Linked DNA regions of Homo sapiens: regions 1 and 3 are each linked to region 2. The links come from fine-mapping of genetic effects on gene expression. A gene starts in region 2. Each other region holds a variant in brackets. All regions are shown on one strand. Distances are between the middles of the regions. Region 1 holds the start of TRIM14 (tripartite motif containing 14). Region 2 holds the start of CORO2A (coronin 2A). Region 3 overlaps TBC1D2 (TBC1 domain family member 2).

Evidence for each region.
Region 1: its variant is fine-mapped to the expression of CORO2A in whole blood (TOPMed, PIP above 0.99).
Region 3: its variant is fine-mapped to the expression of CORO2A in fibroblasts (GTEx, PIP above 0.99).

Annotation. Positions count from the first base shown.
Region 1 is chr9:98,117,646-98,125,821 of GRCh38, reverse strand. It overlaps TRIM14 (tripartite motif containing 14), which reads left to right and starts at 6,600. Exons shown (of 6, transcript NM_014788.4): 1 at 6,600-6,840. The coding sequence starts at 6,634. It overlaps CORO2A (coronin 2A), which reads left to right. Exons shown (of 12, transcript NM_052820.4): 12 at 917-4,847. The coding sequence ends at 1,048. RefSeq lists a silencer at 6,667-6,766 and an enhancer at 7,077-7,126. The variant T/A (reference allele first, on the strand shown) is at 4,995.
Region 2 is chr9:98,188,826-98,197,001 of GRCh38, reverse strand. It overlaps CORO2A (coronin 2A), which reads left to right and starts at 4,365. Exons shown (of 12, transcript NM_052820.4): 1 at 4,365-4,443. RefSeq lists enhancers at 1,105-1,621, 4,858-5,512 and silencers at 4,036-4,585, 4,656-4,705.
Region 3 is chr9:98,219,447-98,227,622 of GRCh38, reverse strand. It overlaps TBC1D2 (TBC1 domain family member 2), which reads left to right. Exons shown (of 13, transcript NM_001267571.2): 6 at 6,395-6,790. Among named protein-coding and RNA genes, the nearest start is that of MIR6854, 5.7 kb to the left of the region's middle. RefSeq lists an enhancer at 3,754-4,953. The variant C/T (reference allele first, on the strand shown) is at 4,593.

The DNA.
Region 1 (8,176 bases), 71 kb after region 2:
TGCTTGAACCCAGGAGGCAGAGGCTGCAGTGAGCCAGGATCACACCACTGCGCTCCAGCCTGGGCAACAGAGTGAGACTCTGTCTCAAAAAAAAAAAAAAAAAAAAAAAAAATGGTGGGAAACCATCTGTAAAATGGAGAGGGTTTGACCTAGTGGGTATCAAAGTCTTTCCAGTTCTGACATTATAGGACTTTCTGTGCTTTCAAAGTCCACATTTGTTTAGTGCCTACTGTGTGGCAGATCCTGGGGTAGGCACTTTGATACAGCACGTGATTGAATTCTCTCAACAGCCCTGGAAGTCAGTCTGTAGTGGCTAAGAACACAGAGGCTGGCATCTCACAGATGGATTCTGATCCTGGCTCTGCTGAGTACTAATTTAGGGTCTTAGACCCAGAGACTGAATGTCTCTAAGCTTCCGTTTCCACGGTGGTACGGTGGGGACACTAGCACTGCCACCCTTATAGGGGTGTCACAACGTTCCAGTGGGATAACGAGGCCCTTAGGGCATCACTCAATATCTAACACCCATTCTGCACAGAGGGCAGTTTTCTGACCCCATTTTCCAGAGGAAGGAATGGAAGCTCAGAGTGGGTAAGTAACTTGCCCAAGGTCACACAGTTCAGTGGTGGCGAAAACACCAATCCCCAGACTTCAGAGCCAGGCATCCTTTCCTCTATTTCATGGAGGATCTATGGAAGCAAAATACATCTGAAACATTCCAGTCTTCTTGAATTTCATTTATTGGGTGAAGTAAACAAGGTGTTTGTAAAAGATCTATGCAGTGACAGCCCCATCAGGCCTCAGCCATGTTAATGTGACCGCCTCCACCTTTCTGAGTCAAAGAGGGATAGTGGTTTAGCTTTCAGCTGGTGTCCTGACACCATGGTGATCCTGCCTTCCGATCTTTCTTCCCCAGTTGCTGCAGATGTTCTACCGGCAACAGGAGGAGATCCGAAGGCTCCGGGAGCTGTTGACCCAGCGAGAGGTCCAGGCCAAACAGTTGGAACTGGAGATCAAAAACTTGCGGATGGGCTCAGAGCAGCTCTGAGCAGAGACCTCTGCCCTCCTCACCCTCAGGGACACCACTCGGCTCCATGGGGAGGTTTAGAACCAAACCACAAGTCCCCTCAAGGACAACCACTATTTCTATATTTTTTACCAGAAAACAAAACTCTCCATCGCTGAAAGAGATTCCAGTGGGACATGGTGCCGTTTTTCTGTTTGCCTTCTTGCAACAACAGTTTCTGAATTGACTTTGTTTTCAGATGATGCCTTCTGTTGAATTCTGTTATTAAGGGCCCATGATGAGCTGTAACTTCTCAAGAGGAAAGAACACAGTAGAAAACTAGAGCTGGAAGGATCTAGGTTGACCTGTCTGTGATTTTCAAACTGTGGTCCAGAGAATAGGGGAAGACTGGGCCAGACGCAGTGGCTCATGCCTGTAATCCCAGCACTCTGGGAGGCTGAGGTGGGCGGATTGCTTGAGGTCGGGAGTTTGAAACCAGTCTCACCAGGCGCAGTGGCTCACGCCTGTAATTCCAGCATGTTGGGAGGCCGAGGCTGGTGGATCACGAGGTCAGCAGTTCGAGACCAGCCTGACCAACATGGTGAAACCCCATCTCTACTAAAAATACAAAAAAATTAGCTGGGCGTGGTGGCAGGCGCCTGTAATTCCAGCGACTTGGGAGGCTGAGGCAGGAGAATTGCTTGAAACCGGAAGGCGGGGGTTGCAGTGAGCTGAGATTGTGCCACTGCACTCTAACCTGGGCAATAAGAGCAAAAGTCTGTCTCAAAAAAAAAAAAAAAAGAAAGAAACCAGCCTGGCCAACATGGTGAAACCCCGTCTCTACTAAAAATACAAAAATTAGGCAGGGCGTGGTGGTTCACGCCTATAATCCCAGAACTTTGGGAGGCCAAGCTGGGCGGATCTTCTGAGGTCAGGAGTTCAAGACCAGCCTGGCCAACATGGTGAAACCCCGTCTCCACTAAAAATAAAAAATTAACCAGGCATGGTGGTGCATGCCTGTAATCCCAGCTATTTGGGAGGCTGAGGCAGGAGAATCGCTTGAGCCTGGGAGGCGGAGGTTGCAGTGAACCAAGATCATGCCACTTCACTCCAGCCTGGGTGACAGAGTGAGACTCCGTCTCAAAAAAAAAAAGTTGGCCAGCCGTGGTGGTGAGCGTCTGTAGTCCCTGCTATTCGGGAGGCTGAGATAGGAGAATTGCTTGAACCTGGGAGGTGGAGGTTGCTATGAGCCACGATTGCGGACTGCACTGCAGCCTGGGTGACAGAGCGAGACTCCATCTCCAAAAAAAAAAAAAAAAAGAGAGAGAGAATAGGGGAAGACTAAGCAGGAAGGCTGTGTCTCCCTTCCCCACACTGTATTCCAACCAGACAGCTCCCTTCTATTTTATATGTTGGGCTAGTATGAAAAACAATTCTGCTAGGAAAAAAAAATTTTTTTAGAAGTTTGAAAGCTAGTGATTTGACCCAAGTTCCTCATTTTACAGCTGGGGAAACTAAGGCCTAGAGAGAGGCAAGTGATATTTGTTTCATGGCAGGGCTGGGCTGAGATCCTGCTTTTCTGGGTCTGTCTTTTTGCTCTTTTGGGTCTGATGCAGTTCTCAGCCCAAAGAGTAGAAATCTGTTGCTTCTGGCCTCAGCTGTGCCCCAGCTTACTCAGTGACCTCTTGCAAGTCCTGCCCTCTCTGGTCTCAGTTTCTTCATCTGAACCAGGGGTACCCTGGAACAAGCTGCTCTCTGCAGGATCTGCCACCTGAAACCTTGACCTAAGAGAAAACTACCTGTGGGGTGATCTGGGTTTGCTACAGAAACTAACGGACACTGGCAAGGGGTCAGAGGCATTCAACCCAATTCTACAACACAGGCAGGTGGTCAAAACCAACCTTTCCAACCAGAATCAGCCTGATATGGATAGATGCTGTCCCTTATGGAGGGACGCAGACTTCAGAACTGTGCCCATGACTGCTGACTGCCACCACCAAGGCCCTCAGGTACACAGCCTGCCTCCTGCAGGATGATGTGGGCAGATTTCAGCCCTAGTTAACAGAAGAGTCCCCCAGGAGGTAGGGGGCCCCCATCACTGGAGACATGCCAGCAGAGCCTCTGGCCACCTAACCAGGAGGTCTTCTGAAATGACTATACGAGGTAAAGAAGTAGTACCAGATGGTCCCAAAGTTCCCTTTTAGCCTGAAAGCTTTTCTTTGTCCCTCCTTAGTGAATCTGTGTTCCGAGCCCTACTCTAAAGTTCAGTGGTCAATACAATAGTCCACCAAGAGACTGGGAATGATTAGAAGTGAAATTGGTCCCTCCTTACCAAGGAGGGGCAGATGATCTCCATTGCACAGGGCGATTAGATTCTGGAGCTGAGGTGGGGACTGCAGGAGGCCACCTAGTCTGGTAGGTTTCAACCCAAGCTGTGTACATTAGAATTCCCTTGGGAGCGTGCAGGAAATACAGATGCCCATGCCACATTCCAGACCAACTGAAGCTGAATCTCCAGAGTAGGGCCTGTATGGTCATATAAGCTCCACAGGTGATCTGCAGTACAGTGAAGATGGAAGACTGCATGTGTACCTATTTGCAATAAAGATGAAGAGGACAGCAAGCTCCAGACAGGAGCTGGGACTCAACCCAGATCTCTTAAGTCCTGCCTGGTGGCTCCTTAAAAGTCCAGAAGTGTTGCCCCAAGCCCTCCCTCAACATCTCTGGGAACCGCAGCTGCAGCACGATGGGGGTTCAGTGCCCCTGTTTGCCCCTTACCCAGCTGTGGTTTATTCTGCTTGTATGTCTGCACAGGCCGGATGCTCGTGTTCCTTGTCTTATTCTCCATTTACTCAGTCACTGGGGCTCACTCCCGTCTGATGCACTAGCCAAGATTGCCTTAGTGTGCTCCAGAAAAGAAGGCCAAATCCCAGGCATTGTCAGGGCAGCAGAGCTCTACAGGATAGGCTTACCTTTCCCACCTGTGTGGCTAGCACTTCACAGTTTACAAATTCCTCCCACCTCCACTCAGTGACACATGCTGTTCTAACACAGGTCAGGCAGGCATTACAGTCCCCATGTTCAGAATCAAAGACCTAGCCTCAGAGAAGTGAAGAAACATCATGCCAAGGTCATTGACTGCCAAGCGGTAGAGGTGGGGTTGCATCCAGAGAGCTTCCCGGTATGCCTCTGCACAATGCCATTCCTTGGCCAGCTCCCTCCACCCCAAGGGACCCAGACTGCACACTTAACAAACAGGACACAGGTGTCTTTGAACAAACTTTTTTGTATTATTATTTTTACATCTAGAATAAATTATTTAAATTATTTCACAGCAAGGGAGAGGGATAGGTAATTTTTATCAGATATTTTTTTAAACCATCTGTTTTTTAAATTACATTTTTGTTTATGTTCTTGAGCTGATGTAGTGGAACTTGCCTAGCACATTCAGGTCCCAGCCAGTTGGCAGAGCATGCTCTCATCTCCTTATTCCATACCCTGGGCGTCCCCTTTCTGTTGACTCAGGAACTTTCTGAGAATGAGGACAGCACTAGGAGATGAGCTTTGGCAGGTATCCACCTTAACGCTACAATAATTGTGCTTCCTGAAACAAAACTTGAGATTGTATCATAGAAGGAAACAGGAAGTCAGAAATCAAATCTATGCTTTTAATTGAAACCGTGCCTGAAACAGTTTGAATGATTGTTTTAATGTTGTTTCTGAAATTCCTTGTACCTTTGTGAAAAATAATGATAATAAATAAAAGTGAAAATAAATAGATGTGGAATATGCAATGGAAATAATGTAACAAAATAATAAACATCTGGCCATTTTACTACAAGGAGCTTTCCTTTTCTTGATTTGTTCCACAAATACCAATTAACTATCTACTCTTGGAGTCAGACACCAAGCTGGAAAACAGGCAGAACAGACAGTCTTTGCCCTCTCCAGTTTTCAGTCATGGCTGCGGGAATGGGGAGGGCCAGGA[T/A]AGGGAAAGCATAGGCTGTTCTGGAAGGAGAAGGAGGGAAGGCTTCCTGGAGGAAAAGATAGTAAGGTAGAAACCTGCAGAGTAAGTTGGAATACTCAGGGCAAAGGGCATTTGGGAAGAAGAATGTTCCAAGCAGGGTAAACTGCACGTCCCCCAGTCTTGAAAAAGCACAGGGTGGAGCATAGGCAGGGCGGAGACCAAGGATCTTAAGAAAGAGCTGAGGGCTTTATAAGTGGAAGTCTAGACTTGAGCCTGGGGGGGCAACTGGAATTTGGGGTGGTGGTGTGTGTGTGAAAGTTGTCAGTACCAAAACAGAGTCACTTACATCAAAACCAAACTAAATGGTGCTCCTGTAGTCCCAGCTACTCCAGAGATGAGGTGGGAAGATCACTTGAGCCCAGGAGTTAGAGGCTGCAGTGAGCTATGATCGCACTATTGCACTCCAGCCTGGGCAACAGAGCGAGATCCTGTCTCAAACAAACTAAATGGTGCTGGGAGGCCATGAAGTGGGGGGCCCTCATCAACGATTTGCCTGGTAACAGGAACTATTATTGCAAAAGATTCCACCAAACTGCAACCTTGCACAAAGAACCACAACCTTGCACAAAAGCCATGATATGAGGACATCTGCCCAGCAACTGCCTGTTCAACTTTTGGACTGAAGCCACCTGTATTAATTCTTGTAACCAAGTATTATTATTTTAAAACGATCTGGCCGGGCGCGGTGGATCACGCCTGTAATCCCAGCACTTTGGGAGGCCGAGGCGGGCAGATCACGGGGTCAGGAGATCGAGACCATCCTGGCTAAAACAGTGAAACCCCTTTTCTACTAAAAATACAAAAAATTAGCCGGGCGTGGTGGCGGGCGCCTGTAGTTCCAGCTACTCGGGAGGCTGAAGCAGGAGAATGGCGTGAACCCGGGAGGCGGAGCTTGCAGTGAGCAGAGATGGCGCCACTGCACTCCAGCCTGGGCGACAGACCGAGACTCCGTCTCCAAAAAAAAAAAAAAAAAAAAAAAACAAAAACAAACAAACAAACAAAAAAAACAGTATATGCAATCCTCCTCGTTTTGCCTTTAAAAGCCTCTGCTTTCCTTTGCCTCCCTGAGTACTCCGCGTCCCCACCCCTTGGGTGCCATGGCACATTTATTCCCGAATTGCAATCCTTCTGCTCAGTCCGAAATAAACTCAATTGGAGAATCTCTGTGTCCTTATTTGAGGTTGATGAAGGTATCTTACAGTTGTGGGAATGATTATCTTTCCGGGGAAAAGGGCAAGAGAGGATCAAGGGAAAGTGAGAGGAGCACCCCCGGAAGGTCACAGCCAACTTTGGTCCCATCATCAGGGCTGCAGTTTTCTGGGCGTTACTGGAACAGCGTCATTAAGCAGGAAGCCCACCCTCTCCTAGCTGGCTCATTAGGAGCTTCCCATTTCTGGTGGGACCACCTCCCGGCCTGGGCGGGCAGAGGGAGCACCCTGCTGGTCGGAGGATGCTCCGAGGCCCGACGCTGCTCCCGGCGGGCTGTCATCCTCCTAGGGGTCGGCCGGCCGGCCTGGAGCCGCCCCGCCCACGGCCGAGGTTTCGGTTTCCCTTGGGAGCCCCGCCCTGTGTCCCGGGGAGCCGGAGGAGGTGGAGATGAATGGCGGGCGCGGCGACCGGGAGCCGGACCCCTGGGAGGTCGGAGCTTGTCGAGGGATGCGGCTGGCGCTGCCCGGAGCATGGCGACCGCGTGGCTGAGCTCTTCTGTCGCCGCTGCCGCCGCTGCGTGTGCGCGCTTTGCCCGGTGCTGGGCGCGCACCGTGGCCACCCTGTGGGCCTGGCGCTGGAGGCAGCGGTGCACGTGCAGGTGGGGACGATGGGGACGGGGTTCGCCGCGCGGGAGTTGGGGGAGCCAGCCCAGGCATAACGGCCGAGGAGGGGGCGTGCCTGGCCGTGGCCAGTGGCGGGTTACAACCTGGAAACCAAAGGTGCCCCAGAGGGCGTCTAAGCGGTCGACCGAAAGTTCAGAGCGGGAGCCTGAGACCCAAGGAAGGGCAAAGGCGAGCCAAAGCCATCAGTTGAGCTTCAGAAAAGGTGGGTTTAGGAGTGAGAGGTTGGGAGCCCAGGCTGGTACCCAGATGTCCTTGACCGTGTCCACCATGGCCGATCCGCCACACTGCCATTGGGCTGGAAGACAGTCTGCCTTTTAGTTAACAGAGGTACAAACTCTCCCTCTTAATAAACAGCCCTGTGTAGCTCAGAAAGCCACACAGACATCTCAGGTTTACTTAATCTGCAGTCCACAGAAAGGGCCTGTGAACTTTGAGCTGAGGACGGCCTGACTGCCCTGGGAGCAGCCTCAGCTGTCACTACCTACCTCCTCTCCCCTCCCCGGCCACACAGACACTCCCATTCCTGCTCATAGCAGCCCTGGGTGAGCCATTATTATTACAGCCATTTTATAGGCCACAAGAGGAAGGCTCTGGAGGCAGGGGCAGGCCTTGAACCCAGGACTCCATTAGCCAGATGCCCCCAACAGGGCCATTGTCACCGTGGAACCCTTACCCATGCATAATCCTAACAGTGCCCCAGGGGCTCTGGGCTCCTGCTCCAGCTTCCCAGCTGACTTTTTCTGTGGCTTCTCTCAAATCCTTCTCTCTCTCTGGGTTTCATGAAGCCTGGGTGAGGTAGGCCCTCATGTCTGACAGCTGTTGATCCTACCACTTGTCTCCAAGAAGTCTTCTGTGATGAATTCAGCCCCATCGTGAGCCTTTCTCCGGTACTGCATGACTCCAGACCACCACACTGTGACAACCTTGGAACTCCAAGGTGAAAAGGGGATCATGGGGGACAATCCAGTGGAGTCGTGGGCTCAAGACCTGTCCCTGCCACCAGACCCTTCCTTTTTTTAACGTATGAAATGGCTGTAATTATAATAATGGCTCCTTGAAAAACTGTTATTCAGAATTAACAAGGCTGCTTTCCACAGATCTGGCTCAAGAGTCTCACCCATCCATTTGTCCATCCCCCTACCCACTACCTACTGTCAACTTGAAGTAATAAGATTCAGAAAATATGATTAAGTACAGAGTTTATCCAAGCCTAAAGCTTGAGGATGGCCAACTGGGACCATAGATTCAAATTTCTGTGACTATCCACTCTGATTAGCAGCAGTTACATATAAGTTTTTAAGGAAAAAAGAA
Region 2 (8,176 bases):
GGCAGAGGAGAAGCTCTGCTCAGAGCTGAGTGTCTGTGCTCTTTCCCTCCCCTCCTGTGGAGAGGGGTGGGTGGTACTTTGTATTTGACCCAGCATAATGTAACCTCTGGTTCCTACCTGGCTGCACCTGAGAATCACCTGAGTAGGCCAGGCGCCGTGGCTCACGCTGGTAATCCCAGGACTTTGGGAGGCCAAGGCGGGTGGATCACTTGAGGCCAGGAGTTCAAGACCAGCCTGGCCAACATGGTGAAACCCTGTCTCTACTAAACATACAAAAAATTAGCCAGGCATGGTGGTGGGCACCTGTAATCCCAGCTACTCGGGAGGCTGAGGCAGGAGAATCACTTGAACCTGGGAGGTGGCGGTTGCGTGGAGCTGAGGTCGTGCCATTGCATTCCAGCTTGGGCAACAAGAGCGAAACTCTGTCACAAAAAAAAAAAAAAAAAAAAGAATCACCTGAGTAGTTTTTTAAAAATGTTGGTGCTAGGGTCCTATGCCTGGAGCCTGTGGTGGAGCCCAGGCATTCTGATACATGGAAGGGTTGGGGACACAGGACACGGGACACAGGGCTAACTGCCTCCTCAGGCCCTGACAGGGAGCTGGGATTGAGAACTGCTTGTCCTGCAGCATCAACTCACCCAGGCCAAGCTCAGGTTACCAACGAGTAGACAGGGCTCAGAGACATTAGCTAACCTATCCAAAGTGACACAGCCACTGGTTGAGCCATGCTCAAGCCTAGAGCCCTTACTGCAAAGCCAGGGAGGACTCCCCCAGCTTAACCCACCTGTGGAACCTAGAACACCTTCCCCAAGGACCTAGGGAAGGGGCATGCCTGGCCTGTGGCCTCCTGGGGATACCCTCAGAAGATAGTTCTAAGCCAAGGAAAACTAGAGGAAGAATTTCCTCATGGTTGCCTCACGCTGGGATTGTAGCACTATTTCTCCCCTTCATCAGAGACAACAAGAGAAGCATGATACCCACATGGCAAGGAGGCTGAGCAGGGACTGGTGGGCCCACCCCAGAGCATCTGTGCCTGCTGTTGCTGCCCCTGGGGCGCCTGCTTGCCCTTCCCTGCTCTTTCTGGAGGGTGTTTGGGGCCCACTCCTGGTGTCAGGTTCCTGGCCCGCACCACAGCTGTTGCCCCCTTCCCCTGGGGCTGCTGCCTTCCAGGGCTGGAGGATCCGATCCCTCTCAGCCCCACCTTCCCACCCTAGGGGACAGGACCTCATGCTCAAAGCATGCCTTCCCCAGGCCTTAGGCCCCCAGCAAGCTGTGGTCCGACCTGCTCTAAAGGAGAGGAAAAGGGAATTACCCAGGGAACCTCCCTGGGGCAACATCCCTAAGAATAAAGGGACTGGGTCAAAGGAGGTGGAAGGCCCCCCTCCCAACAACCCCTAACATAAGAGGTGCTCACTCACTTCCAGAGATTGCCCGTGTTCAAGGCTACTATCCTCCAAACACAGACCCCTCCCCAACCCCCAGGCACTGTCTCCTCATTCTTTCTCAACCCCCTCCCCCATGGACATGGGGCCATATCGTACAGAAAGTTCCATGTGGGGCAGATAGATGGAGAACTTGCCCCCCACCCCCACCACACACACACATATGTTCTGGTCCTGCACAAGATGTTTACCCACATATGGAAGATTAACAAAGCCAGCCATGTGGGTGCACTGGGAAGGAAGAGGGAGGTTTCCTGGCCCATCCCAATCCACACTAAGGCCTAATAGAAGATGCCAGGAGATGGGCCCAACTTTGGAACCAGATCTGCTATGTGGTTTTCTAGCTAGGGGATCCTGCGTAGGTCATGCCCACTGTGGCCTCAGTTTCCCCATGTGTGCAATCCTGCATCTGGACCAGGATTAGAGGGAGGGAAGGGGCAAGAGAGGAGGACACTCCCCAGCCACAGCAACCCCAGGAAGGGTCCCAGGTTCATTGCAGAGGTCTCCCTCTGGCTTATGGGTCCATATGCCCACAGCCCCCAGAGATGTCTCTGTCAAACCAGCTGTTCCCCAAACAGTCCCAGCCACCAACCACCATGGCACAGGGTAGGAAGATGCAGGTGCAAGCCTTGGAGGGCACATCCATAGGACATCTAGGAAGGCTAGGCCTGGAAGGATGAGTGGGTTTAGACAAGGGAGATGATGATTTGGGAAGAGAACTGCAGACAGAGCAAAGGCTCAGAGATGTCAGAGTGCAAGGCGAGTGGCATTGGCAGAGGTAGAAAGCCACACCAGAGATGCTGGCCCAAGCCCTAAGTGAATTAAGACATTCAAGGCCAGGCGTGGTGGCACGCACCTGTAATCCCAGCACTTTGGGAGGCCAAGGCAGGCAGATTGCTTGAGCCCAGGAGTTGGAGACCAGCCTGAGCAACGTGGCGAAACCCTATCTCTACAAAAAATATAAAAATTGGCTGGGCATGGTGGCACGCACCTGTAGTTCTAGCCATTCGGGAGGCTGAGGTGGGAGGATTGCTTGAGCTTGTGTGGTGGAGGCTGCAGCAAGCTAGGATTGTGCCACTGCACTCCAGCCTGGGCGACAGAACAAAACCATGCAAAAACAACAACAACAAAGTTATTCAGATGCCTTAGCCTGGGAAAGATCATGGTGCCCACCGTCCAGCTGTAATTCAAGTAAAAACCAAACCATGATTATAAAGAATTCCCACAATGTTCTGATTTCATCCATATGTTTGTTTGTTTGTTTGTTTGTTTGAGACAGAGTCCCACTCTGTAGCCCAGGCTGGAGTGCAGTGATGTGATCTCGGCTCACTGCCACCTCCACCTCCTAGGTTCAAGTGATTATCCTGCCTCAGCTTCCCAAGTAGCTGGAACTATAGGCACATGCCACCACGCCCGGCTAATTTTTGTATTTTTAGTAGAGACAGGTTTTCACCATGTTGGCCAGGCTGGTCTTGAACTCTTGAGCTCAAGCAATCCACCTGCCTTGGCCTCCCAAAGTGCTGGGATTACAAGCATGAGCCACTGCGCCCAGCCATCCATATGCTTGATACCCAACTCTTGCACGCTAACACCAGAAGCATGCGTTCAGTCTACCTGCTGGGCAATCCAGCTCCAGAAGGTCTGAATCAGAGCTGTAGGATGGGGTTTTCAGGACCATAGTGCACACTGGGCTTTGGGTGGTAGGCAGGGAGCCCGTCCAGCTCTGGGCAGGGGGGTGGTACAGTGGACTATGGAAGCTGAGTCACATTCTAAGGAGAGAATCAAGAGCTCCCTAAGTACCTTGCCACTCCAAGCCTCAGTTTTCTTATCTGTAAAATGGAGGTAATAATAGTGGCTAAATAAAGCCACTATTATTAGAAGCTTAGAAGAAACGATACAGATATGTAAAGTAGTAACAGTGTACTCTGTTATCCACTCCACAACTATATATTGAGTGGTTACTATGTGCCACGGAGCAGTTCAAGGCCCTCAAGATAACCCGTCTCTACTGAACAAAACCAAGAGCTCTTCACAGACGTGGTGTGGAGTGGAGTGGCTGTTAGCTTAGTAGCCGTGGGAGCCATACTGCCTGGGGTTGCATGACTAGCCGGGTGATCTTAACCTAGGTACTTAATATCTCTGTGCCTCAGCTCTTTTGTGTTAAATAGGTGAGTAATGGTATCAACCTCATAGGCCTGTGTGACAGTGAAGCGAGGTAATGCACAGAAGGCGCTTAGAGGAGTGCGTGGCTCAGTAGTGTTAGGTGGGGGTGGTACCCAAAGGTAGGGCCTCCCCATTGTCTAGTGTCCTCAGGGCTCTCCAGCCAGCGAGGCTGGCAGCAGCGCCCCCGGCTGGTCCCGAGAGAAGGAAGGGCGTCCTCCTCGGTTCCCAGCGGCGCTCCCGGCTCCTCTCCTCCCTGCGGACGGGGAAGCCTCGGTAACCGCTGTAACTGCTCGGGGAAAGGAGCGCTTCCCTGGCCGGGCTCGGCGCGCGCACTGTACCCGGCCGGGATCGTCACATCCAGGGCTCAAACAGCCTTAAGAGGCCGACGCGGTTACTGTCTCCATTTCACAACGGGGGAAACTGAGGCTCCGGGAGGTCAGGTTCCTCATCCCACACCACGCAGCGAGGGCACGGCGCGACGTGGGGCCCGCGGCTCTGCCTGTCCCCAGCCTCCGCCTGGTGGCCGGCAGCCCGCCCCAATCACTGCGGCGTGTGCGCGCCTGTTCCCAGCACGTGTGCGCGCCCCGAGACCCGCCCCGGGGAGCCAGGAGCGCGGTCGGGGTCGTGGGGGCGGAAAAGGGTGGCCAGGGCGGACCCGCGGGGCGGGCAAAAGGGCGGACCTTGGGCCAGGCCCCCGCCCCGCCCTCCGGCCCCGCCCGCCGGGCTGCAGGGGGAGGCGGCGGCGGCTCTGGGCGCCGGGAGTCGGCGGGCGGCGAGGAGCGCGGAGCCGGAGCTGGACGCCGCCGCCGCCACCGCCACCTGCGCGGCAGTCATCAAGGTAGGGCGGCCCTGCGCCGCCGGCCGTGCCTTCCCGGTCTGCGCGATGGGGGCGTCGGGCGGGACGTGCGCGCTGCGGCTGCAGCTCCCGGAGAGGGAGGGATGCGGGGCTCGGAGCGCGGGGGACCTGGCTTTCAGCCCCTTTGCGTGACCTTGCACAAAGCACTGCTCCTCTCCAGGCCTCAGTTTCCCCGTCAGGATAGCTTGCTCATTGGTGGCCCCCTTCTCGCGGGGTTGTTGGGAGGGGCCGCCTCGAGGTCCGGGCTCCCGACGGCTCGCTGCCCTCATGAGCACTGTCTGCACCGCCCACCCCTCCTGCCCGCGGTGAGGGAAGCTCACTCTGGGCGCGGCCAGCCGGTCCCGACAGGCCCCTGCTGTGGCCCGGGTGCTCCATGGGACTCTTGTCGGGACCCTCCCCCTCTTGGCTGCGTTACCTGCTGGGCCTCAGCTTCCTGGTACAGGAAACGGTGGGGTGGGGGGCATCCCCGGGTCCCCGCCAAGCCGGCCTGGGCGTGCATGTGGGGCATCAGCCGGCCCGCCAAGAGGGTTTACTCGTCTGGGGCTGGAGGAGCCCTAGGTTGGAGGTGGCTGGACTCCTGGCGGCACGACTGCCTGGACCAGCCCCACGTAGGCACCTCGATTTAGAGAGTGGTATAGGATAGCTCCTTCCCCTTCCCCACCCGGGCCAGGTGCTGGTGCCTAGCTCTGTGTCCCAGAGCTAGTGTGTGATAAGGTGTGACACACACTAGCTGGTGTGACAAGGGGTGACTGGCGGCCACGCCTGGACCTCAGAGGGGTGACAGTGCCAAGGTGCTGTGTCCGCGTGGCATTAAGGGATGGGGCAGAGCACAGGTCTGAGGGACTGTGGTCCCAGGCTCCCTAGGTAAAGAAGACCTATGGCATCTGGCCCAGCCCCTCTGTAAGATCCCCTCTGGAAGGTCTTGCTGCCCCCTTGCACACTCCTTGTGATAGGAATCTCACTAGTTGTAAACCAAGCTGGAATCTGCTACCCAGTCACTGCCTCTCCTGCTGGTCCTGCTCTGGACACACAAACAACCTCTGACCCTTCCTCCCTCACCCTGGGGCAGTGGTCAGGTCCCTTAAATATGCTCATCTCCAGACCCAGCAGCCCCAGGCCCAGCAGTTTCTCCCATCAGATCCCAGGGAGCCAAGGCAAGAAGAGGGAGCCGAGGTGTCTGCCCTGGAGCAGGCTGTGGGGCCTCCGCTTTCCTGGGGCTTGTTCAGAACCCACCTGTGCATCAGGACTGGAATGTGTCTCCCCAGCTTCCTGCCCCTCCTGGGGACCGTCTGAGAGGTCCGGAGTGAGGAGAGCCGGAGCCCCTCTGCAGGCCTTTCCTGCCCCATGGGGCCTCTTCTCCACCTCCCTGATGCCTGCCCTGTTTGAGGGAGCAGTTTCTAGGAATCACTTCTCAGCCTCCTGGTCTTTCTTGTCCCCTTCATGACCTGCCCTGCACCCAGGGATTTTCTTAACAGCCAAAAGAGGGCAGGAGGCCCCTGGACAGGTAGTGAGCTCTTTGTCATCACAGGTATTCAAGCAGAACCTGGGGGTGAGCTACCTTGGACTGAAAGTCTATGGAATTCTAGGGCTGAAGTAGTGCCTATGACCTTGCCCTGCGGCCATGGTGGAGCTGCACAGGACTGGGAGCTGGACCACAAATGAGTGTTATTATCCCCTCGTAAAAGCAGGCAAAGTATATGTGCTGGCCCATGAGCCCAGCTCCGACGCACAGGCTTAAGTGCTACCTGGGTCTCCTGTCATCTCGACACATGTATAATCTGGGCCCTGTTTTCCTGCTTGCCTAATTCAAGCCTTTTTGGCCTGATTTAGGAGCATGGCAGATTCTGGTTATTAAAAAGTCATGCTATGACTTTAATTGCTAATACTTTTTAAATGCACCATGGAATCATGGAATGTCTGAGCTGAAAGGAGCCTTCAGACGTCGTCTCATTCAACCCCCTCATTTTACAGATAGGCATCCCCTGTCGCCAGAGGGGATGTGACTGGGCAAAGGTCACACAGCAAACCAGCAACCGAGCCCAGGGATCCTGATTCCAAGATTGGAGTGCCTTTTTTTCTCCAAAAAAACACATAACATATAATAAATGAAAGCAGTCTGTATTTATTCCTGTAAAATTAGCAAAAATAAAAATAAAAAGATGAAACTCTGTGCTGGCAAGGCTATAGGGATTCGCCTGTGGCATTTAATTTTGCAGAGCAACCTGGCAGCCTGTTATCATGAAAATGATCATATTTGCCCTTTGCCCTTAGCCGGCTACTTTGGGGACTTTATCCTAAGGAAGTAACTAGGGAGAGAGACATATGTAGTGCTGTTATTTGTAAGAAGTTGTCTTCTGGCCAGGCACAGTGGCTCATGCCTGTAATCCTAGCACTTTAGGAGGCCAAGGTGGGCGGATCACCTGAGGTCTAGAGTTTGAGACCAGCCTGGGCAACATGATGAAATCCTGTCTGTACTAAAAATATAAAAATTAGCTGGGTGTGGTGGCACATGCCTGTAATCCCAGCTACTCGGGAGGCTGAGGCAGGAGAATCACTTGAACCCGGGAGGCAGAGGTGGCAGTGAGCCGAGATTGTGCCACTGCACTCCAGCCTGGGCGACAGAGCGAGACTCCATCTCAAAAAAAAAAAAAAATAAAGGAGTTGCCGTCTAGTGAAGAAGTGTTCAGTTTTATCTGAGGCTTAATAAACATTTCATTTGACAAATACAGCTTAAAAAATAGTGGCACTGAAGCTTACATTACCGGAGTCTGGCCAGCATAGAAACAGTTTAATCCAGAAGAAAGACCATGAGACTAAAGTCAGCAGACATAGATTCCAGATTGAAGTCTTCCTCTTCCCTACTGTGTGACCTTGGGCCGATCCGTTCCCCTCTCTGGACCTCACTTTCTCCATCTGTGAAATGGGGGTAGACTCAGCAGTTGCTGAATTTGTTTGAGCTCTGACAGCCAACCTCTTAGAGTGAACAAATCTCAGTAGCAAAGCCGAGATTGGAAGGAGATTCATTAAATGAATCCCCTTAGAGGCAGGTAGCTAGCTCCCCACCGAGGGGTTTCAGCCTTAAACCTTTGCTATTTCAAAATGGCCAGAAGCTGGATCGTTTTAGAAGTTGGTGTGTTTTTATCTTCTCTGCCAAATCTCAGGAGGTCCAGAAAATAATTCAGCAGAATCTTCTTGTGTTTTAAGTCTATAATCCATGCCTTGCCTCCTTCAGAACAGATTGGACGTGCTTTGCAATCACACCTGGTCTAAAGGGCCAGGAGTAGGTGACTTTGCTTCTGTGGTCAAACTGTGCCTCCTGGGGGTCTGCAGGCTGCTATGGGAAACTTACTAGGTTAAACCACATGAAACGGCCAGTATGTGACTTTTTTTGACTTACAAGAAATGGCAATTTCATTTGGTTCAGCCTAAATGGAAAAAGATATACAGGTATTTAAAGAGCGGTGTGCTCCTTACTATAATTGAGAGATTGGCAGGGTGTGGTGGGGACAAGGAAGGTGTGATTATGAGCTTGCAGAAGTCAAGGAGGAGGGACATGGGAGCCTCACTTTGAAGAATCACTAACAGTAATAATAATAGCTAACATTCATTGAGGGTTTACCGCCTGCCTAATTCTGTCCTAAGTGCTTTATGTTCATTCATTCCATTAGTCATTCAGCCAGTATTTATTAAGCACCTACATTGTACTAGTTTTTTT
Region 3 (8,176 bases), 31 kb before region 2:
TTTTTTGGTTTTTGTTTTTAGTATTTTTATTAGAGACTAGGTTTCACCATGTTGGCAAGGCTGGTTTCGAACTCCTGACCTCAAGTGATCTGCCCACCTCAGCCTCCCAAAGTGCTGGGATTACAGGCGTGAGCCACCGTGCCTGGCCAGGAGTTACATTTAGTGAAGCAACTGGTGATTAGACATTAGAGTTCTCAAAGGAGGGGGCTCATTTATTCATACGTTCTTAACTCATGTGTTTATTCACCAAATTTTTATTAAGGGCCTGTTATGTGCATGCAGTGTTCCAGGTGCTGGGAAAGAACAATGAGCAAAAGACACAGGCTCTGCCCTTACAGCTTGCATTTCATGGCAGAGACAGACATTAAACAAAGCAACACCCAAATGTGTAGTTATAACACGTGAGGTCCCCTCTGCTGCTGCTTAGCAGCCCAGCTGTCTTTTCCTCCTGTCATCATGGTGCTCCAGTTCTGAGGCTGCTGGACGCTCCTGAGAGCTGAGAGGGCATGAAACAGAGCCATAGCAGCTACTTGATCCCTGGACTAGTAGAGCTTAAATCCGAAACCCAAACCTGGAAAGAAAAAGAAATCCTGAATATACGGGCAGCCTCTCTTGACACAGCCTTTCTTTCTAAGACATTACAAATTGTCAGATGAAGTAGAAAGGCCCCAGGAAACCTAGATTTCATGAAAGTTTGCCCCTGATTGCTCTGCATCTCTGGAGGACTCATCATTCTTCAATAAATAAAGGCAAGATTCTTGGAGATTAATAAGGGTTGACCAGGCTATTGACAACTCCCATATATTCAGAGGGAAATTGTCAGGAGGAAGTTGTTGATGCATTGAAGAATCTGGATTTTTTTTCTACCAGGTAACCTTCCACCAAACCTCGACTTTGTGTCCTGGGACAGAGGGTCAAAAGGAGAATGAGTTGTGATTTATTTAGTTTATCCAATTATTGTGCAATAGGAGTGGATTTGTTTACTCTCCAACCCATTCCACAAATGAACTTCAGTCTTCAGGGTGATTCAAAGAACCAGCCTTTAAATAAGACAGCACAGGCTCAAATTCTGGCCCTAAGCAAGTTTCTTAACCTATCTAAGCCTCAGTTTCCTCTTCTGTAAATGGAGTTGCAGCCGTGTTTACTGGAGAGACCTGTGCCCAGATTCATAAAGCCCAGTACCTGGCACCCAGCAGCTGCCCAACAGATGCAGGCTCTGGTTGTTCTGGCGATTACTGCAGCCCTCCTTACCCTCCATGTCAATCTCTTCCTGCCCTACAAGCAGTGAGGTGCCCTGCTGAGGGGCTCAGAGACGAGGCGGGAAGTGAGAGCCCATCAGTGCCTTCAGGAAATGTGCCGTGGGGCCATAGCAGTGATCAGGGAGCTTAGGTCTTCATTCCACATTAGGAAGGGAGGAATGGCAGCCCCGTAACTCTAGGGTTTCACCTGTAGCCCAGATACTGAAACCAAAGAGGTGAGACAGAAAAAGCCAGCACAACTTCTGGGTGCCCAGTGGTGCCCCCAGGCACTCAGAATGCCGCTAGGAGAGCCGCTGTCCATCTGAGACCCTCATTAGAGTCCCATTCATCAGCTGGGAAGATGGGCACCTGGAATCCCAGGAGCTACCCCTGCGAGGTACCTTCCTGTGTTTCTTTAGTGGGAAGGCACCTCCTGTCTACCTCAAACTTCAGGAGGACATGGGAATTTGGGGTCTTATCCTAGCTGATCTGGCCATTGCCAGTGGCTTTCGTGACTCTTTAGGAATTTCTATCTCAAACACTGCGAGATGCTCTTGAGAGCACATTGCAGACAAATCCCTGCCCTTGGGCACCTCACCATCTAGTGGGGAAGAGAAGATGTGAGCATGGGAACTGCTGGTATGAAGCGCGGCCCCAGGACTGTGCTGAGCCTTCCCATGTGTTATCTCTGTCCTTACAATAGTTTTCATCCCCTTACTCTGAAAGGGAAACTGAGGTTCTCAGAGTGTCTGCATGCTCAGGGTCTCCCAGGGGCTAAGCCAGCATTTGAGGAGCTCAGAGGAGTTGGGTGACTTGCCCATGCGCAGGCAGCTGGAAAAGCCAGGATTGGGGCCCTAACCTCCTTCTCCAAGTCTAGAGGCTGGGCTGCCTCCTCTCTTCCATAGTCTCATGGTGAGGCCCACTATGAGACACAAGCACCAAAACTGCTCTTGAGAAAAAATGAATGCACTCCCTGTGTACCCCCTGGTGTCATATTAAACCACAGGTTGACTTCAATACCCATTAAGCCATTATCTGTCCCCATACCTGCAGCACTGGCCCCACAAGAGGTTTGGGCTCTAGGAGATAGCACCAGATGGCTGATTGGCCGGGGACTGACCCTTGGAGTTGACAGAACTCCACCCAGCCTGAAGGCCGTCTGCTCTGGCAGATGGAAGGCTGTTGTCTGTGGTGATGTTGGCCATCTGTTGGCGGCTGGGAATGATGAACCCCTCTGGGACCCTGCCTGCGGCCCTCTGGGGCCACCTTAGTTCAATCAGGATTACTGGGTAAAGGAACGTAATTTTTTAGGAAACTCAGTGGGGCAACGTATAGCCTCTTACTTTCCTAGAACTCCAGCCAAAAACTTCAGAGGACATGAAAGAGGGCTGGGAGGTACCTTGGCCATGTCAGCTTGGGGAGGGACACTTGGCACTTTCTCTTTCATGCTAGAGGCAGTTCTGAGCAGAAGAGGAAGCTTTAGCCCCATTCATGAGAAAGCTGAGGTTCAATGAAGAGGCCACCTGAGCTACCCTCCTTAGAGTCACCTCGTTAGATACACCCCCCACGGATCCAGAATGGGAACCGAGGCCTGTGCAACTCCAAAGCCCATGCCCCTTCATCTGACCCCTGTAGGGCCCACCACTGATGAAAGTAGCAATGCTCTAAAAAGATAAAGGATTATTTTTTAAAGATGATTTATTGGCTTTTAAAAATTTAAATAAAGTGACAACTTATGACCACGTATCAAAATCTGAGATGAACCAAACAACTCGATTGAGAAATATTAAAAGTACCACTTGGGCCGGGCATGGTGGCTCACACCTATAACCCCAACACTTTGGGAGGCCAAGGTGGGAGGATCTCTTGAGCCCAAGAGTTCAAGACCACCCCGAACAACATAGGGAGACCCTGTCTCTACAGAAAATAAAATAATTAGCTGGGCAATGTGGTGCATGCCTGTAGTCCCAGCTACAAGGGAGACTGAGGCAAGAGAATCTCTTGAGCCCAGGAGGTTGAGGCTGCGGTGGGCCGTGATTGCGCCACTGCACTCCAGCCTGGGCAACAGAGTGAGACCCTGTCTCAAAAAAAAAAAAAAAAAAAAGAAAAGAAAAAAAAACACTTCAAAAAGCTTAATTTCATCAACCCCTCTATTTTTCTTTTCTTTTCTTTTCTTTTTTTTTTTTTTGAGATGGAGTCTCGCTCTGTCGCCCAGGCTAGAGTGCAGTGGTGCGATCTCAGCTCACTGCCAGCTCCGCCTCCCGGGTTCACACCATTCTGCCTCAGCCTCCTGAGTAGCTGGGACTACAGGCACCCGCCACCACGCCTGGCTAATTTTTTTGTATTTTTAGTAGAGACGGGGTTTCACCATGTTAGCCAGGATGGTCTCGATCTCCTGACCTCGTGATCCGACCGCCTTGGCCTCCCAAAGTGCTGGGATTACAGGCGTGAGCCACCACGCCCGGCCCAACCTATTTTTAAGAATTGGTCCTAAGACATTGCTTATAATCCAGACTTTAGGTTTCTTGAATTCATGACATTCTCACTCCTCATCTTACAAGTCCTACTGAGGCTCCCTCCCTCTGCCCTGGTTCCGTTCTTTTAAGCCTATTTTATTCTGGTACAAGAATTCTGGGGGTGGGAGGAGAGCCTCCTGGGCTGGTGTCTCAGTCTTAGATTCTGGGAGCCAAATGCGGGAAGGAGACAGCTAGATGTAATGAAATAAGCTTCAGAGTCAACTAACTCCCCAAATTGAGGGAAAGACACCCACTGGTCCTGCTCCTAGGGCAAGTCTGAACAATGATGTCTGTTGGTTATTTCCCTGGGCAGTCATCCAAGGTAACCTCCAAATCTCAGCTGAAGCAGAAAATGGCCTAGGCCCCCAGTTTTCCTGGAACCACAGGAATGTTAATCTCTCTCCACTGAGCCCTGAGAAGCTGACTTCTTCATTCTGGACGTTCCAAACATTCCCTTTTGGTTTGCAATCACTGTGCTGTCCTCACCCCAACTTCCTGCCACACCCCAGGGCTCCCACAGCTCCATGGTAGCTCTTTCCTTCCTCCAGGTCTTTACTGGGGCTGTAGCTTGGCCACATCTGGAGGGCCATCCCCACCCTCATCTCCCACCTGCTGCTCGACCATCTCTGGCCCTTCTCATTCTTCACAGTTTCTTTTAAATGCTCTGGACTGGTATTCCCCACAACCTCCACCCCAGACAGAAGTCATTGCCTTTCCCACAAACACCCTTGTTCCCCTGACTTGCAGTAGATCATTCCACTGTGGTGGGTCATGTTCATTCCCACCAGCCTTTGCAGTCCTTGGAGGTGGGAACTCTCACCACTCCCTCTCTGGGCCA[C/T]GGCACCTGGCTCAGGGCCTGGCCTGGCACCGAGTGGTGCTTGGTAAAGGTTGGATGGATGGATGGGCATGTGGAAGGAAAAGAGAGAACCAGAGAAAGGATGGTCACTAGTCCTAAGGTTTCAGAAGATGCAGGCTAATGTGGTCTTGTCATTAGCTTCTCCAAAAAAGTCATGGTTTTTGGCAGTTTTCCTCCAATATAGAATTGTTCTTAGCAAATAAGGCTATCCAGCCAATCCACTCATTTTAATACTTTGGTGTGGTATAGTTGACATGTCTCTAGGAAACCATGTTTTTCCAAATGAGAAGCACAGAGCAGGGCAGTGTTGCCTGAAAGTCATACCTACCTGGTATTAGTTCCACGTGGACCTGGCTGCTGATGTCCTGATCCTGGCCCAGAACAAATTCACATCCCTGCTTTGGGACAGATAGGCCTGAGTCCAGGCGTGGCCCTCCCTGGGGAAATTACAGGCTTAAAGGCACAGGGAGCTGAGCAGACCTTGAGTTCCTGTGTGAATTAGTTGCCCCTGCTGAGGAATAAATCAAGCTCTATTGTTTCTGAACTTTCTAGAGTTCCTTCCACCAGCTTTGCAGGCATCGGCTGGTGGGCTGAAGGTAACTAGGCACAAATGGCTTGAATGAGGTCCTCTGTGTGTGGCTTTACATGGGGATTGCCAGTGTATTTCCTCTTTAACCCTGACTCAACTTGATTGGTAGTGACTGGCTGCTATATTGAGAATGATTCTGAGGCCTCAACTAGGGTAGGCTGTGCAGGAAGAAGTATGGGAGATTAATTAGTGATGTCTGCCACAGGGATGAGAGGGAAGAGTAATGCCACATAGCTGCCACCCCTGGTTTTCTTAGTTACTGAGCACAGGCTTTGGAATCTAGCCAATTGAGATTGAATTCCATTCTACTCTCTGCTGGGCCTCAGTTTGTTCATCCCTGAAATGGATGTGTATATGTCAGGGTATGGGTTCAGCTGCTGTGACAAAAACATCTCCACTGGGTGTGGTGACTCATACCTGTAATCCCAGCACTTTGGAAGGCCAAGGTGGGCAGATCATTTGAGTCCAGGAGTTTGAGACCAGCCCGGCAACATGGCAAAACCCCTTCTCTACAAAAAAATACAAATATTAGCCTGGTGTGTTGGCATGTTCCTGTGGTCCCAGCTACTTGAGAGGCTAAGGTGGGAGGATCAGCTGAGCCCAGGAGATTGAGGCTACAGTGAGCCATGTCTGTGCCACTGCACTCCAGGCTGGGTAACAGAGGGAGACGCTATCTCAAAAAAAAAAAGTTTCAAAGCACTGTGGCCCAAAACGAGTGAGAGGTTTCTCATTCACATTAAAGAACCCAGAGGTAGGTGAGCAACTCTGAGCTGGGGGGCAGCCCTTTCTCAACATGTACCTTCTGCTGTGGGTCTGAGGCGGCCACTCTAGTTCCTGCCACTTCCCAGCCAGAAGCAAAGAGAACTGGACCAGAGGAGCGTGTATCTAGTGGTTTTAAAGGTAGGACCCAGAAGCTGCCCATCTCACTTTTCATTTCCCATTTAGGCAGAATAGTTACTTGGCTACACCTCACCATGGCTTGGCTGGGAGATGCAGTTTTAAGCTGGGGAACCATGTGCCCAGCTAACAGTCACTTGAACAGAGAAGGAGAAAGTGAGTGTCAGGATGAGATGCCGCAGGGATGCTGCTGGGCACCTCTCACGGTTGTTAGGAGAACTACTGATAACATATACCCCACTGTGGCGCCCAGCAGGCCCTCCCTGAGCTCACAAGATTCTTCCCTCTCCCTGCCCAGGAGCTAGTGAAGATCCTGCACAAGGCACTGGAGGCCGCCCAGCAGGAGAAGCGGGCGTCCAGCGCATACCTGGCGGCGGCTGAGGACAAGGACCGGCTGGAGCTGGTGCGGCACAAAGTGCGGCAGATCGCGGAGCTGGGCCGGCGGGTGGAGGCCCTGGAGCAGGAGCGGGAGAGCCTGGCGCACACAGCGAGCCTGCGGGAGCAGCAGGTGCAGGAGCTACAGCAGCACGTGCAGCTGCTTATGGACAAGAACCACGCCAAGCAGCAGGTCATCTGCAAGCTCTCTGAGAAGGTCACCCAGGACTTCACGCACCCCCCTGACCAGTCTCCTTTGCGCCCCGACGCTGCCAACAGGGACTTCCTGAGCCAGCAGGGGAAGATAGAGCACCTGAAGGTAGGGGCCTCCCCTCAGGGCCTGCCAGTCCTGCCGGTCCTCTGTCCCAGCCCTCAGGGAAGGTGCGCTCTCCACCCCTAAGGGTTTGCTAGGTGGAGTGGGGATACCCCTTCATCCTAGAATATTCACATTAGAAACACATGTTGATGGGAATATTGCTCTACGCTTCTTCACTTTCTTTACCACAAGGCCCAGTGCAGTTTGCCTGGGCCTTGATTGACCCATTAACCAGTAGCCCTGGTATCCTGGGCTACTGAAAAGTGAAGGTGCCTCTAGATTATCAAATGAGAGATGAAAGCCTGACTAGCTAAGTGTGGGGCCTGGCCTGGTCAACCTCCCTTAGTGCCATCCCAGTGCACCCGAGAGCCCTAAGGGGCCAGCACGACCCTCCCCCCACAGTCCTGCGCCTGCACACTGTACGGATGACCTGCAGCTGCCAATAGTCACTGCTCCCATCTGTAGAATTTATAGGGTGTTTCCTGTGTGCCAGGCACTGCCCTCGGTGGGTGCATCGCCACATTTAGTCCTCGCGCCAGCCCTGTGAGGTGAGGCAGCCGCTGGTGTGCTCCCCCTTTACAGATGTGGAATGCTGAGGCTGAGAAAGGTTAAGGAGCCTGCCCAGGGTCATGTGCTGAAGAAGTGGAGGAGCTGGAGCTGGGCTGGAGCTCATGTCTGCGGTCTGGTCTGTCTGCTCAGCTGCCGCTTCTAGCTGCTGCCACCATCCCTGCTCCTCCTTTCCTCCCCTTCCTTCCCCTTCTCTGTCCCTATCTTTCCCTAGGCTTCCCCACCCCACAGGGACCAGTGATGTCACAGGAGGTAGGAACTTTATGTGAAGTGTGTTGCCTGCCGTGACCCGCAGCCTCCTCTCTAAAGGGTTGTGACAGGAACTGTCCCACTGGGAGGCCTGTGGCTGTGGAGTGCACTCATAGCCTCCACTGTCCGTAAAGGGAGCCATACAACCAGAGTTCGTCCTGCCCCAAACCCTGCCACTCACAACCACATATGTACAGTCAGATGCCATATAACAGGCTGCATATGTGATGGTCCCATAAGATTACAATGAAGCAGAAAAATCCCTGTCACATAGTGACATCATAGCCGTCATAACATCATAGCACAACATGCTACCTTTTCTATGTTTACATGTGTTTAGATACACAAATGCCATTATGTGACAGCCACCTATGGTATTCAGTACCGTAACAGGTGCACAGGTCTGCAGCCTCGGAGCAATAGGCTACACCATCTAGCTGGGTGCGTAGTAGGCTAAATCACCTAGGTTTGTCTGCGTCCAGTCTACAATGTTTGCACAACAGTGAAATCACCTAATGACGCATTTCTCAGAGTGTATCCTCATAATTAAGCCACACGAGACTGTACATATAG